Regions from separate parts of the Homo sapiens genome. Here region 2 is linked to region 1. Evidence: fine-mapped expression QTL. Tissue or cell type: hippocampus. Region 1 holds a variant in brackets; the other region holds the start of a gene. All regions are shown on one strand. Distances are between the middles of the regions.

Region 1 (8,105 bases):
GGAAATGGAGCAGGACTTCCCTGCCAACCAAGTCACAGGGCCCAGAGGCGAGGGTGTCAGGGACTCAGGCCAGTAGGCACATGGGCTTGTGACCTAGCCAAGAAGTAAGGCTCCCAAGGCTACTGGAGGAACTCTGTGGCCAGTGTGACCCACTCCCACTGAGAAGCTTTCTTCATGGAATCTCAGGGTTAGGAGACCGGGGGTCCTTTGGCCGACGTTTGCCAAACTTCTGAGTTAGAATCAACTGAAGGCTGGGCACAGTGGCTCATGCCTGTAATCCTAGCACTTTGGGAGACTGAGGCAGGATTGCTTGAACCAAGGAGTTTGAGACCAGCCTGGGCAACACAGTGAGACCCTGTCTCTAGAAAAATAAAAAATTAGCCAGTCATGGTGGTGCACACCTGTAGTCCCAGCTACTCAGGAGGCTGAGGTGGGAGGATTGCTTGAGCCTAGGAAGTCAGGGCTGCAGTGAGCCGAGATCGTGCCATGGCACTCCAGCCTAGGTGACAGAGTGAGACCCTGTCTCAGAAAGAAAAAAAAAAAAGAGACAATCATCTGAAGAGGCTGGTCCTTTCATCCTCCCCCAGATATTCTACCTTTCAGTGAATCTGGGATGGTGCCATGAAATTTGTTTTTAACAATATCCCCAGGTGATTCTTATCAATAGGCAAACTTGGGAAACACTGAGTAACACAGCCTCCAATCTGAGGCCTGAAATCTCTCCATGTCTCCATCTGAGGTCATAGAGTTCTCCTTGAACACTGGTGATGGGAGGGCTCCCTCCTCCTTCCATAGAATGAGTTTAATTGTTAGAGAGTTCTTTAACGAACTGTATTAATAACTGCCACCCTTCACCACTCACCAGTCCTGCTGCCCTCTCTTCTGCATGGCAATCCTTCACATAAATGATGACAAAGGACATTATAAACATTTTCTTTTTAATTATTGTAAAATACACATAACAAAAATTTAGCGAGCGATATGACCAAGTTTTACGGGAAAACTCCCGTGATTTTCAATCAAACATTGCATAAGTAGCCAAGGAGCAATGAATAGCAGCAACTAGAATCATGGAAGCCATGCATCTATAGGCATGAGGAATGGGAGGGATGTCTAACACGTCCAGTGTGAGTTGTGGAGGGAAATGTAATTGATCGATCCTAATCACTGACTCTTGGTCAACTTTACAGTTTCTGCAATACAAGCTTGTGATTTATGCTTACTCTCTAGTGGAAATCAGGATTGTTATGAAGACTTAAGGCTCAATATTTTTTAACACAATACTCATCTAGGATGTAACAGTGAAGCCGAGTAAACTACAACTGTTGAGCAAGTTCCAGCTTTTCTCAAGTTAGTTATATTATAGGGTGTACTTAGTAAGCATATTTAGGTGAAAGAAGTTGAATTATGTTAAATGTTGCCCTTTGCCACATTACACTGAACACTGGATGCATGTGGAAAGACATGCTTTGTTTTTTGTAAAACTCAAGGTAGGAGCTGTGTCTAGAAACATTTTGGCATGTTTGTTAATTCTAGTTTCACTTAATAACTTGTAAGGCATGTACGTTTAAGCTTTTTTTTTTTTTAAGTTAATGGGAAAAATCTGAAACGCAATACCAATACTTTAGAATTTTGGCCTTGGTGTTTGTATGAAATTCTGAGGCCTTGATTTAAATCTTTCATTGTAGTGTGACTTCCTTTTAGGTATATTGTGCTAAGTGAAACTTGTCAAATAAATCCTCCTTTTAAAAACTGCTAAAAAAAATGTAGCATTTTATCAGTGGCAAGGGATTAGCAGGCAGAGCACAGAGGATTCTCAGGCGGTGAAAGTGACATGTGGCAGACACATGTCATTATACATTAATCTGAGCCTAAGGCTGTACAACACCAGGAGTGAACCCTAATGTGAACCATGGACTTTGGGTAACAATGATGCACCAACGTAGGTTCACCAATTGTAGTAAATATGCCCCTCTGGTGGGGGATGTTGATCATGGAGAAGGCAATGCCTGTTTGTGGGCAGTGGGGAGTATATTGGAAAATCTCTATTCTTAACTCTTAATTTTGCTTGTGAACCTTGTGAACCTAACACTCCCCTTTAAAAATTAAATATTTTTTAAAATGTGCCATCTTAACCATTTTTAAATGTACAGTTCAGTAGCTTTAAGTATATTTACATTGTTGTGCAATCAACTAATCTCCAGGACTTTTGCATCTTGCGAAACGGAAACTCTTTACTTGTTAACCCCCTATTTTCCCATCCCCCAGCTGCTGGCAACCACAGAACATTATAAACTTTTTTCCAGGCAAAAACATCCCCAGAAACTTCAATCCTCATGGTTCTGGCTGCTCCCGTGAGAGGAGCAGGACCAACCTAGCTCAGACTCTGGCCTGGCCAGAACTTTCTCCTGCACCGGTGTTGAGTCTCTAACACATAACTGCAGCCACCACTGATTGACACCAGGTGTGTTCCAGAAGCTGTGCTGGGGCTTCAGACCTTTTATTCCCTCCATTCCTCACAACCACCCTATAAATAGGTCACTACTATGCTTACCCCTGGTTAACAGTTAAGGAAACTGAGTCATGGAGAAGTCAAACAAATTGTTCTAAGTCATATGACTTATTCAAGGTCAACCAGTTAATGAAATAATAAAAAACATTTACAAAGTGCCTGCTGCTTGCAATTAGTGATCTCAGCTTGTCATGCATTAACTCAGTTAACCCCCACAACATCACAACATCCCCATGAGACAGGCACTATTTTGTATTTTTTATTTTTTTGAGACAGAGTCTCACTCTGTCACCCAGGCTGGAGTGCAGTGGTGTAATCTCGGCTCACTGCAACCTCCGCCTCCTGGGTTCAAGTGAGTCTCCTGCCTCAGCCTCCTGAGTAGCTGGGACTACAGGCATGCACCACCACGCCCAACTAATTTTTGTATTTTTAGTAGAGAAGGGGTTTCACCATGTTGGCCAGGCTGGTCTCGAACTCCTGACCTCAGATGATCCATGAGATGGGCACTATTATTACTATTCCTGTTGTACAGAGGAGGAATCAAGACACAGAGCCAGGAGTCTTGGTTAGTAAGCTGCTGAGCTTAAGGGTTTGCTCCTAACCACCATGCTACACTGCCTCCCTAGAATATGTAACCCGCATTCAGGACAGCCTGCCATGCTGAAACAGATTGGGAGGTGGTGGGTTTCCAATGAGCAGATAGATCTTCCATGATTTACAATGGGTTCCCTGGGAACACTAGTATATTGCAGTTCCCATGGAACTATATAAAAGGGGACTTAGAGTTGAAAGAGCTGGTGAAAGAGTCATCAGGGTATCAACAGCCTGGATTTGTCACTTACTGTCTGTGGGACCTTGGGTCCTTATGCCCTTAGTTTTCAAATCTTGGTAAATTGCAACTGATCATCTCCAAGGCCCCTTGCAGCTGCCACTGTGGATTCTAGGACTTGGCCACAACCAGGAGCCACCTTGGGAGCTCTATAGACTCTTGATGCCTAAGTCTCTCTCCCAGAGAGTCTGATTTAATTAGTGGGGGCTGGGGCTTGGGAATGGAAGGGAGGGTAAAAGCTCCCTGGGTGACTCTAACGTGCAGCCAGGTGAACTCTGCACCATACCATCACCTCTCAAACTAAAGTGTGACACCTGGGGACACTGCCAACGTGCAGATTCTGATGCCACATGTCTAGGTGGGGCGTAAGAGTCTGCATTTCCACCCAGCAGGTCCAAGGACCACACTAAGTAGCAAGGGCTACTCCAGTGCAGTGGTTCTCCAAGGGCATCAGCATCACCCACAGCATTAGCATCACCCCAGAACTTGTCAGAAAGGCACATTCTCAGGCACCACCCCAGTCCCACAGAATCAGAAACTCTGGGGGTAAGGCCCAGGCATCTGTGTTTTAGCTGAAGCATCACTGGCCTAGAGGGGCCAGGCCTCCTCCTGATGTAGCTGCTTCCTGTATTGATGATGATAATGGGGTGGTAATGACAGTAACTGAGTGCTGGCTGCTCCTGCCTGCCTAAGGGCATGAGGTTTACACGCTCATGGAAATTTTTTGTGCCCTGGGTTCCTCCTGCTTCCCCTCTGAGCAGACTATTTCAGGACAGAGCAGCAGAGACAGAGTCTCTTCAC[T/C]CTCTTCTCTCGCTTTGTTCATGCTTCTGGTACTCAGAGGCACACGTGACCCTCGGTGTGGAGGCCGCCCTGGGCTGTAACTCAGGAGGCCTAATTCTTATCCCAGCCCCTCCACTATCAGCCAGGGGGAGCTCAGAGACACTACTTCTTCATGGGCCTTGTCCCCTCATCTGTAAAATGAGGGTTTGGACTAGATGATTTGGGGTCTCAACCAGACCAGACATCCTCTGACTCCATGATTCTACTAAACAAAGGCTCTTCAGACAGCCCTCTGTCAAACAGGAGCCCCCCATGACTTGAGCTGCCAGTCTCTGAAATGTCACTCAATTTCCAAAGTAGGGACACACAGGATGCAGACAGCGAGCAAAACAACTGCTCATCAAGGGATCGTGCCGTGCATCACTGGGCACAATTAGGCATCACTTTAACAAAGCTGTTTGTTGTAGTGCTTACAGAGCTGGCTGGCTCTAAAAGGCTTAAGACAAAAAGCAGCCGGACTTGCTCCCTCTTGACAAATCCCCTCCCCCAGGGACAACCACTTTCAGGTCTTTGGGGGTGTTTTACTCCCGATCTCTAGAGCAATGTTTCTGAGCCTGTTTCCTGTCTCATGCCCCTTATAGAGAAAAGGGCATGGGAGGAAGAGCTCACCGAGGACCACATACGTCCAGAAAGTCCCACCGCAATAGCACACACAGCTACTGGGCCCGGGAGGGTTGTCGGGAAGAGAAGGGCAGAAAGGCACTTCGGGAAGGCGCGTCTTCTGAGACGTGGGGAAACCACTCAACTTGAAAGTGCCAGTGGGTTTAGGGGGATTTTTTTCTTTCACTTCCTATTTCATGGACTTGTATATTGTGCAAGAGTTTTACAAGCACTTAATGACTTCTTACAAATATCTCCAGTTTAAAGAAAGGAACATCCCCAACATGCAGTGACCCTTGGGGTATGTTTTTCCTCAAACGCCCAAAAACCTGGATCAGTGGAGATGGGTGTTGATGGGGACATAGGGAACAGAGCTAAAGTCCTGCCAGGGCAAAGCTCACGGGAGCTGCTGGGGAGAGCAGCCGCACGCTCAGAGGGCTGTGTGGACACCCCTCTGACAAACGCACACACGAATCCTGCATCTCAGAGGTGCCTTCTCACGTCCTGCTGCAGAAGCCCCTGCCTCTCTAGGAAATAATGTGCTACAGAGAGTTGGCCTCAGAGAAGAAAGCTGAGCATGAGGCCCTCCAGCCAGTGGCTATCATACTCAGTCAGAATAACTTCTAACCACACAAGAGACCTAGAAAGCAATATCTTCTTCTCAGAATCCAAATTGAATCCTTTCTTGGGCCAACTCTTTCTTGCTGTGGGACCTCAGGCAAGTTACTTAACTCCAATCTCAGTTTCTTCTTCAGTAAAGTGAGGACAAGAGCTCTTTCAAAAACCTGTATGCAATCTGGGCATGGTGGCTCACGCCCGTAACCCAAGCACTTTGGGAGGCCAAGGTGGGAGGATCACTTAAGTTCAAGAGTTCAAGACCATCCTGGGCAACACAGTAAAACCCTGGTTCTATAAAAAATACAAAAAGTAGCTGGGTGTGGTAGTGCATGCCTGTAGTCCCAGCTAGCTACTTGGGAGGCTGTGGTGGGAGGATCGCTTGAGCTTGGGAGGCAGAGGTTGCAGTGAGCCAAGATCATGCCACTGCACCCCAGCCTGGGCAACAGAGCCAGACCTTTTGAGACTTTGTCTCAAAAAAATAAAAACAAATAAATAAAGTTTTAAAACCTGTATGTAGTGCTGGGCAGAGTAGCTCACACCTGTAATCCCAGCACTTTGGGAGGCCGAGGCGGGCAGATCACGAGGTTAGGAGTTTGAGACCAGCCTGGCCAATATGGTGAAACCCCGTCTCTACTAAAAATACAAAAATTAGCAGGGTGTGGTGGCAGGTGCCTGTAGTCACAGCTACTCAGGAGGCTGAGGCAGAAGAATTGCTTGAACCCAGGAGGCGGAGGTTGCAGTGAGCCAAGATCGCGCCACTGCACTCCAGCCTGGGCAACAGAATGAGACTCCACCTCAAAACAAAACAAAACAAAAAACAAAGCAAAACAAAAAAAAACACCTGTATATAAATGTTCACAGCAGCATTTTCACAATAGTTGAAAAGTGGAGACAATCCAAATGTCCATCAGCTGATGAACAGATAAAGGACATGTCATATATCCATTCAATGGAATATTATTCAGCCATAAAAAGGAATGAAATCCTGACATGGGCTGCAACATGAATGAACCTTGAAAACATTTTGCTATGTGAAGGAAGCCAGTCACAAAAGGACAAATGTTGCATGATTCCATTTACATAAAATGTCCAGAAGAGGCAATCTATAGAGACAGAAAGTAGACTGGTAATGGCCTGGGGCTGGGCGGAGATCAGGAAATGGGAAAGGACTCCGCATGGTACAGGGTTTCTTTTTTGGGTGATGAAAATGGCTTAGAATTAGACAGCAGTGATGGTTATACAATCTTGTGAATATACAAATAAATACTGCATTGTATATTTTAAAATGTAAACGTTACAGTATTTGAATATACCTCAAAAAGAAATGAGGACAACAGGATCCAACGAACAGGTGGTTCTGAGCATGAAATAAAACGTCTGCAAGGCTCTTAGCACAGTGCCTGGCAGGTAGTTTGTGCTCAGTAAGTAAGAGATGCTGCTATGAGGATGCAAAAGTATTACTTTTATTTGAGAATCTGACAAAGATGTGCTTCAGCTCTGTCATCCCTGGAGGAGAGAAATGACCTCTGGATTGCATTTATTCTCACAAGCCCTGGACGAGGAGACAACCGCATGTGCTATCATGGGCTCTGGGACTTTCCAAAAAAAACCCTCCTTCCTGGCAAGCCAGTAAGGAGAAAAGAAGCCCATATTCAATTAAAATCAAAAGTAAATCCCACACAGAATACAATCAAATGACACACAGTCAACAATTTGAGACATTAAATTATTTTGATTTCACTGATGACTCATCACAAACGTATACATACAAAAGGGAATAGAAACAGCAGCCAGGATGACACTAACAGTATGGCCACTAATGGCTCTAAAGGGACCACAGCTGGTCCGAGTGGAGGAGGCCACGTGGCCAAGCCAGACCTTGGAGAGGCTTGGGCAGGCCCTGAGGTCTTCCTGCAAGGAAAGCATCAATCAGTCCCTTTTTGCAGAGAAGGAAACAAAAGCCCAGAGAAGTTAAGAACTTGCTCAAAGCCACACACTAAGTAGGCAAAGGGTAGAGTTTGACATCTTCTTGAGAACATCGCCCTACAGAGAAAGTCCAGAAACCCGGATCTGCTGCTGCCTTTAACCCAGTGTCTTTGGGCAAGTCACTTATGGGGCCTCAACCTCCCTATCTGTGAAACACAGAAATGAACACAGCCTATGTCTCTCCAAATGTGGGATGCACAAAACTACTCTCAAGGTTATCTTCGGGTGTGATGAGATGCCAAACAACGCAATCCACTTGGAGCAGGGCAGAGGGCGAGGGGGCAGCAGATGGAAGCTGCGAGAGCCACACCCGCTGAACCGACACAGCACCCTGGGGATAGAGGGCTGCAGTTACCAACTGACCAGATTTCTACAGCAACTTTCTCCTCCTCGGACAATCTTTCAGGGCTTGATATAGCAAGGAATCCACCCCTGTAAGCAATGGCTTCTCAGAACAGTTGTTTGTCCTCCTGATCTCACAGATGCATGACTGATGGGACCCAGGAAGCAGCAACAAATGTCGCCAACCAGTGCCTTGTGCACCACGTCTGCCCCAGACAGACACCACTGCCTGGCATGGCTGGCCTCAACCACCTGCCACTCCTCAAGCTCACCGACCATGCTGACTGGCTACCGCAGTCTAGAATGCCCCTCCCTCCCCTCTCTGCCCACCAGCCTAGCCCCACCTCCCCAGAAAGGGCACCCACCTCAAACCTCAGG
Region 2 (8,105 bases), 28 kb after region 1:
CTTATTGCCTCAGTGTTCTCTCCTTCCTCTGAGTTTCAGTAGCACTTAATGACTTAGCACAAGTCACCTGGATTATTTATGAGCTTTTAAATATACACTTGTCAGCCGGGCGCAGTGACTCATGCCTGTAATCCCAGCACTTTAGGAGGCCTAGGCGGGTGGATCACTTGAGGTCGGGAGTTGGAAACCAGCCTGACCAACATGGTAAAACTCCGTCTCTACTAAAAATACAAAAAAAAAAAAAAATGGTCGGGCATGGTGGCTCACACCTGTAATCCCAGCACTTTGGAAGGCCGAGGTGGGCAGATCACCTAAGGTCAGGAATGCAAGACCAGCCTGGCCAACGTGGTAAAACTCCATCTCTACTAAAAATACAAAAATTAGCTGGGCGTGGTGGCGGGCGCCTCGGGAAGCTGAGGCAGGAGAATCACTTGAACCCAGGAGGCAGAGGTTGCAGTGAGCCGAGATTGTGTCATTGCACTCCAGCCTGGGCAACAAAGAGTGAACCTCGCGCTCAAAAAAAAAAAAAAAAAAAAAAATTAGCCAGGCATGGTCGCACATGCCTGTAATCCCAGCTACTCAGGAGGCTGAGGCAGGAGAATCGCTTGAACCCAGGAGGCGGAGGTTGCAGTGAGCCGAGATCGTCCCATTGCACTCCAGCCTGGGTGACAAGAGCAAAGCTCTGTCTCAAAAATAAATAAATCAACAAACCAACACTTGTCTCCCCCATTGACCTGTGGGCAGCTTGGGGCCAGGGAATAGACCTATACTGTGCTTCTCTCCACACACTGAACACAGGTGCTTAGTTAGTATCCCCTAATGGTGAAGATCAACAGACATCATTTGTGTTTCCAATCTGAATACAGGTCAAGAGACTCTTACAACAAATCTAAGACACTGTCTAAATTGAGAAGGGTCAAAAACCAAATGCCTAATAGTGCCAGGTGGCCAATCTGCATAAGGCGAGCCAGTGCAGGGCAGAAGGGAATAGAAAGGACTGTGGCAAACTGGACCCAACAACTTCACCATGCTGCCTCGAAGACCGTACCCCTAAGCCTAAATCATAGCCATGTTGCTAGCATCTTGGTGACTTGTTCTAACCACTTTATGAATGGGAAAGCTGAGGACCCAAGAGGGGAGGCAAATCAGCTAGATGAAAACAAAAAACCCAGGTATCCTAAGTCCAAGCCTAGGACTCTTCCCACCATTCCATGCTCCCTCCTTTCTCCATCTCCAATTCATCATCAATAATCATAAACATTTACTGAGCATCTCCTAGGTATGAGGGATAAGAAGGAAGAGGGAGAAAGAAATGCAGGAAGCAGCTCCGACTTGCGATTCTGATGAGGAAGAGCTTTCTGAAGAACAGCACTGAAGCAATCCTGGCCTCACAGCAGAGAGGGAAAGGAAGGGAAGCCACCAAGCTGCCCAGGGTAGGGGGTAGGCCTGGTGGGATCACCTGGGCTGAATATTTTCAATCAGGCACTATGCCTGCAATTCTACTAGCTACCACCAGATGGGGAGGTGGTGCCTTAGACCAGCGGTCCCCATCCTTTTCGGTTTCCTGGAAGACAATTTTTCCCACTGTAGTGGGAGAGGAATGAAACTATTCCACCTCACATCATCAGGCATTAGATTCTCCATAAGGAGCACACAACCTAGATCCATCGCATTCGCAGTTCGCAATAGGGTTCAGGCTCCTAGGAGAATCTAATGCGGCCGCTGGTCTGACAGGACGCAGAGTTCAGGCGGTAATGCTTACTGGTGCTCACCTCCTGCTGTGCAGCCGGGTTCCTCACAAGCCACGGACCTATGCCATCCACAGCCCAGGGGTTGAGGACCCTTGCCTTAGACCACTGATGAAAACTAGTCAGATTAAAAATTTCACCACTGGTGGCAAGTTCAGACGTCCTATTGTGTGGGTCAGAGTGTACACAGGTACAGGAACAGAAACAACATGTAAAGTCTAGGTGTCAGGGCAATTCAGTAGGAAGAAGGGCCCCTTCCTTCTATGCCAGAGGATGGAGGATGCTCTGAGTACAGCAAAAATGTGCTCGGGACCCCCAAAAGGTTCCCGCTGCTTAAAATCACCACGCTTATTAACTAGCTAGGAAGCCATCCTCCCTTCACCTAAAACTGCCCCTTTCTCCACAAGGAAGAATTGTTTCATGAAGTCCAGCTGACAGGCCTGAGCTCCTCAGGGTACCTGGTCAATGCCATCTGCAGGGATGGTGGTAGTGGAGAGTCACAGAGTGTTCCAAAAGGCAGAAACAGACACCATCAGCCCACATGGGCCAGATCGCCGCTTGGGGCACCCCAGCCAGCTGGCACTACTGGCCCCAGCCAGTCCCAGGCAATAGAGGGTAGGCCTTAGAAAATGTCAGGGAAAGCACTCCAAATCCCAGAGACACTTCAGCACAGGGTCGAAGCTCATACTCACACTGCCTACATCCTCAAAGCATGGCCCTCTCCACACACCCTCAACCCCATTCCTCAGAGTGAGCATCCTGGTCCGGTGAAATGTTTAAATCCAGCAAACGTCTCCTGGACACCTTCCATAAGGCCCCCACTGTGGGAGTAAAGGGGCAGAGACTGGGTATGGGCTAGAACAAGCTTCCCACTGGGAGGCAGGATGAGCCTGATAGTAGTAAGGCTACAGGGCCAGGCCTAGGGGGGCATGAAGGCACATGGCATGGCCAGGGGGAAGGGACAGGGGTGAGCAGCAGGTGCACAAAGAGATTCAGGAGAGAGAGAGACAGGGAGCCAATGGGCTCCCAGATTACTGAGGAAGGGAACTGCAGCCCTCTTACAAGGCTGTCCTCTGCTTCTGTGTAGCGAACTAAGAGAAGTTTTTTGAGGAAGGCAGCCTAATCCATAGTTTTGCAAAGTTAACAGTGTTGTGAGCAGTCCCATTTGTAAAATGGAAATACCACCTTCCTCACCGGATTATTGTGGGAAGTAACTGATATGTAACTTTTGGGAAAGGACTTTGCGAACCATTACATGTTTCCCACACCAAGGCATTACCAGTAGGTAATCAAACAGGTGTAGAGAGGAAGTTTGGATGTAATAAATTCAATGCCAGACAAAAACGTTGTCCTGCTTTGGGGGAGCTGGCAATACAGCCCTCCTGTCCCTATAACCTGGTTTCACCTGGACTCAGGCTGGCTGGGGGAGGGGTGATTTTTGCTTAAACCCTGACCTGGCCCCCTGACTCCAGCCCTTACCATCAATAACTCTACCTTATCTGCAGTCCGGAGACCTCTGCAAAGGAGCCGCTGCGACAGCCCGTCCCCACCATCTGCTCCTATATTTAGTTACTGGTGTTGTCAGTTGGGAACGTTAGAGCCTGGCAGGGGCTCGGATGGGCAACCGGAGCCTCCGGAGCCATGTGTGCAAGCTGGCCCTACCGCTGGCTCCAGCCCGGGCTCTGGACCATGCCAAGCCGGGGAGCGGGTGGGGAGGTGAGGAGCGACCCAAATAGTCCCAAACCCCCCTTCAGATCAGAACGAAGTTGACCCACTTCCCCACCCCAGGGAAAGAAGCCCGCTGGGACGTGAGCGGGACCTGCTGGCGCCTTGTTTTTGTGGCATGGGGTTCGGGAAGCTCAGCGCGTGCTCCCTCGCTAACATCTAGGCATCCTCGGACTGAGCCTCCAGCACTACGCGCGGTAGCCAGGCAAGGGTCCCCCAGCCCCGCGTGCCAGGATCCGCCTCACCCCCGGTGCCTGCAGCCAATGGCACCTCGTCCGCTGGCCCGGCAGGCGGGGACTGGGAGAATAAAGCTGGCAGAGGGAAGAATGGTAGTGATCGCAGAGGCCCCGGGGCTCCCACGCTGCCCGGAGGCCGAGAGGCACGCTCTGGAGCAGGCGTCTGCAGCTCCCCAGAGCGGAAGCAAACCCCGAAAGTGTCGCTTCGGGGACGAAATGCACAGCAGCCTCTCCAAGCAAGGGCGCCTCCCGCGAGGAATGGAGGCCCGCCTGGGAGCGGTTCTCCGAGCTCCCTATTCCCTGGCACCTCTGCACCCACTCCCCTGAACCATCGGGGTCCAGGTGCAGTGAGCAAGCAAGAGCCCGCGCATGCCGAGCCCCTTGGCACCGCCAGAGCCTCCGCTGGTGCACCGCTGCTCTTTTCCACCGGGTGACCTGGGGGAGGGGAGGGGACGCTGCAAAAATCGGAACACTTCTCGCCCTCTCTCCCCCAGCCCCTGCAACGCTTGACCTCGGACTACATTTACTTTGCGGGGCAAGAAGCGTGTGGTCCCGCTCCGGGCCGCTTTTGGCTCCACTTACGGCGACAATGCCTCCTAGCGCCCTGCGCAGCGCAGTCACGCTCCCTCCGCCGCCGGCGGCGCCCCAGGCGAGTTCCGAGCCGGCGGGGCGGGGCGCGCGGGGCTGCGGGATCTGCGCGCGCGGCCACTCCGCCAATCCCGGCGCCAGGACCGGCGCCGCGGCGGGAGCAGGCTGGGCTCGGGATGCGCTCAGCCAATCAGTGGGGGAGCGGCGCGCGCGGGGGTGGCGCGCGGAAGGGCAGCCCGCGCGCTCCCGGCCGCAGGGAGTAACCGCTTTGTGTGCTGCTTCTAGAGGGAGAACGCCTGAGGGGGCGGAGATACAGAGTGGGACGCGCAGTACATCCCAGGATCTCTAGGACCGGGGCTCCAGATTGGGTTTTCTCGAGGGAATGGAGTTGAATTAGCCAGATCAGGGATACTTTGAAACACGTGAACATGGAGCATAGGGAAATTTTCCTATGATGACTTCGGGTGCCCATTGAGGTTTTTAGTATATGCAAGGCCCTGTGTCTCGGCCCTGCGTCTCCAATCCTAATGTTCTCATCTATAAAATATGACTTGAGGGCGGGGCGCGGCGACTCACGCCTGTAATCCCAGCACTTTGGGAGGCCGAGGTAGACGGATCACCTGAGGTCGGGAGTTCGAGACCAGCCTGGCCAACATGGCAAAACCCCCGTCTCTACTAAAAATACAAAAATTAGCCGGGCGTGGTGGCAGGCGCCTGTAGCCGCAGCTACTCGGGATGCTGAGGCAGGAGAATCGCTTGAACCCGGGAGGCGGAGGTTGCAGTGAGCCGAGATGGGCACTCCAACCTGAGTGGACAGAGTGAGACTCTGTCTCAAAGAAAAAAAAAAGAATATTTAATTCCGCCTCTAGGGGGTCTAGGCAGTCAAAGAACACACATTCCCTTGGGCCTCGATGGATGTTAAGGGTTACTTATGCCCTCTCCACCCCCAACAATATGTTAAAGTTCATCAGAATGTGATCTTATTTGGAAGTAGGGCCGTTGCAGATGTAATGAGTTAAGGTCATGCTGGAGTAGGGCGGGCCCCTAATCCACTGAGACTGGTGTCGTTGTAAGAGAAGAGACACAGAAGAGACGCACAGGGAGAACCACCTGTGGTGATGGCGGCAGGGATCAGCTGATGCATTTCCAAGGCCAGGAGTGCCAAGCACTGCCAGCAGGGACCAGAAGCTAGGAACGGGCAGGGAATAATTCCTCCTTCAGAGCCTCCAAAAAGGAACTAACCCTCCAGACACCTTGATTTTGGACTTAATAGCTTCCAGAGCTGTAAGTGAATAAATTTCTGTTGCCACCCAGTTTATGTCCATTTGTTATAGCAGCCCTAGGAAAAAACTACAATAGGTTAGTAGGAATAAAGAGAAGAGGATGATAAATATCTCCAAAGTAAGTCTTTTGAAACTGATTGCTTAGTATATGCAAAGCCTTGTGTCTTGGGGTATACTGACATGAATCAGACACAGACCCTGCCCTCAAGGGGTTACCAGTCAAGTGGATACTTAAGCAGCCATGTTTTCTGACCCCTTGTGCCTTCCCAGGGAAAACTATGGAGATCTCTCTCAACCCATCAACACCACATCCCTGCCAGATATATAGCAAGTACCAGATATAAATAACTAATGGGTAGAGTCCCATTCTGCCCAAGCCGAGATGCTGCTTGCCACTGTGGACAAAGCAGGCATAGCTACTTCTGTTTTCACTGAAAACCAGCATGACACTTCTACCCAACTTTTACACGTGGATGTCTTCTCTCCTCTGCTAGTCCATACGCAGACTTGAGACAGCCAGTACAGTGTTTCTGTACCCATGGTAAGGGCTCAGTATATACTGCTGGCTGATGGCCCCAGCCTGGGGTTTCCAACATTCATACTTTCCCTCAGACAGTCCCCTGTCCCAGGCAGTTCATCCTGGACCCTCTAACTCCACAGAGACAAGATCCCTCCCTAGCTCAAATCCACCTCTTCTATTCCTACTGTTTTTGCTTCTCCAGAGCACTTAGTGCATTATACCCATTATTCTATCATCTCTGCACAAGTCTTTACTCCCGAGAGTCTGCCTGATTGCAAATACCAGAGCTTGACGCATGTTCAGTGCTTGTATCCATCAGTGTTTCCTGCATAATAAAACACCCCAAAACTTAGTTGTGGCTTAAAACAATAACTACTTATTTAGTTCATGATTTTATGGGTCAGTATTTGAGGCTGGGCTTAGCTGGGCAGTTCTTCTGGTCTCAGCTGGACTCCCTCATGCATCCGGGTTCATCGCCAGGCAGTCAGAAGGCTCTGCTTCTGGGAAGTGGCTAGCTGCCAACTGAGGCAAGTAGGTCGCATGTCTCTCATCTACTAACAGGCTAGCCTAATTTGTTCACATGGAGCTGCAGGGCTCCGAGAGCACGAGTGGAATGGTGCAAGGTCTCTCAAAGTCTAGGCTCAAAATCGGCACTAGTCCACTTCCACAGTTGTATCGACTAAACCAAATGGCAAGGCCAACCCAGGTTCGAGGGTGAAGAAATAGACTCCATCTCCTGATGGGAGAAGCAGCGAAGTCACATTGCAAAGAATATGAGTACAGGGATGAGCAGAGAGTTGGGGCTAATTTTGTAATCTGTCACAGGACTCCATAAGTATTCTTGGGCTGGGCTCTGTGGCTCACGCCTGTAATCCCAGCACTTTGGGAGGCTGAGGCGGGAGGATCACTTGAGCTCACGAGTTCGAGAGCAGCCTGGCAACACGGTGAAACCCCATCTCTACAAAAAATACAAAAAGTAGCCGGGCATGGTGGCTTGGGCCTGTAGTCCCAGCTACTCAGGAGGCCGAGGTGGGAGGATAGCTTGAGCCCTAGAGCCCAGGAGGAAGACCAGGTCTCAAAAAAAAAAAAAGTATTCTCACAATACCTATTGGGTACTCAGAAAATACTTATCAACAGTGGTAAGATTTTCAGTCACTATGTTTACTGACTCCATTCAATGCAGTCAATTGGCAAAATATTATCCCTCACTGTTAGGGTCTACAAGCCTCACACCGTTCGTGGCCATTTTCAGTTTCAGAACAGCCAGTGAGGGAATCAGCGAGGTAGGGCTGTGCAAGGGAAGGCCCTGAGGCTTCTCGGTGAAGAAGCTCAACTGGCCCCAAACAAATAGTCTCCTCCGAGGAGATCCAGAGCATCTTTAGAGGCCTGGACCCCTTAGCAAGGTGGTCCAAGCCTGGCCACCTGAGTCAGAAGCTGTACACCCTGAACAGACTCGGATGTTTGCCAGGGCTTGGCTACAGCCTCCGGAGATGTTTGAAATCCTTGCAAATTACTTGCAGATAGGAAGAGTCTTGTGCTAAGACAAAATTGTTCTGTGGTTATTCCCTGAAGGGTCTGACCCCCACTGGGCAGGATAAATTCTCAGGGCACTTGTAAAAGGGACAGTATCCCATTGACAGAGTCAGCATCTCAACTCCTGTGACTGAAGACCCTGATAGAGTCTACTTCTCATCAAAGAACTTCTAGGCCTGCTAATTAGTTAATTTGTGCGCCCACCCCACATCCACCAGAAAAAAAAAAAGATATGTTGTAGTCCTAACCCCTAGTACCTCAGAATGTGGCCTCACTTGGAGGTAGCGTCTTTACAGAAGGAATCAAGTTAAAATTGAAGTCATTAGGGTGGGTCCTAATCCAATATGATTGGTGTCCTTATAAGAAGTGGTTATTGGTAGACAGGCAGACATGCATAGAGGGAAGATCATGTGAAGAGACACTGGGAGAAGATGGCCATCTACAAGCTAAAGAGAAAGGCTTGGTACAGGTC

Which allele goes with the higher level. Positions count from the first base shown, and alleles are read on the strand shown. Sizes are in standard deviations (SD) of each study's normalised expression.
In carriers of allele T in region 1, the expression in hippocampus of the gene that starts at base 4,368 in region 2 tends to be lower than with C alone (small effect, 0.17 SD a copy in GTEx).

The links. PIP is the estimated chance that this variant, and not a neighbour inherited with it, causes the effect.
Region 2: LRRC20 starts here. The variant in region 1 is fine-mapped to the expression of LRRC20 in hippocampus (GTEx, PIP 0.93).

What each region holds. Positions count from the first base shown.
Region 1 is chr10:70,350,655-70,358,759 of GRCh38, forward strand. All of the region lies in intron 2 of LRRC20 (leucine rich repeat containing 20), which reads right to left. Among named protein-coding and RNA genes, the nearest start is that of LRRC20, 28 kb to the right of the region's middle. RefSeq lists enhancers at 4,692-4,791, 5,012-5,221. The variant T/C (reference allele first, on the strand shown) is at 4,143.
Region 2 is chr10:70,378,258-70,386,362 of GRCh38, forward strand. LRRC20 (leucine rich repeat containing 20) reads right to left here and starts at 4,368. Exons shown (of 5, transcript NM_001278212.2): 1 at 4,292-4,368. RefSeq lists enhancers at 3,579-4,198, 4,043-4,242, 4,773-4,872 and a silencer at 4,273-4,642.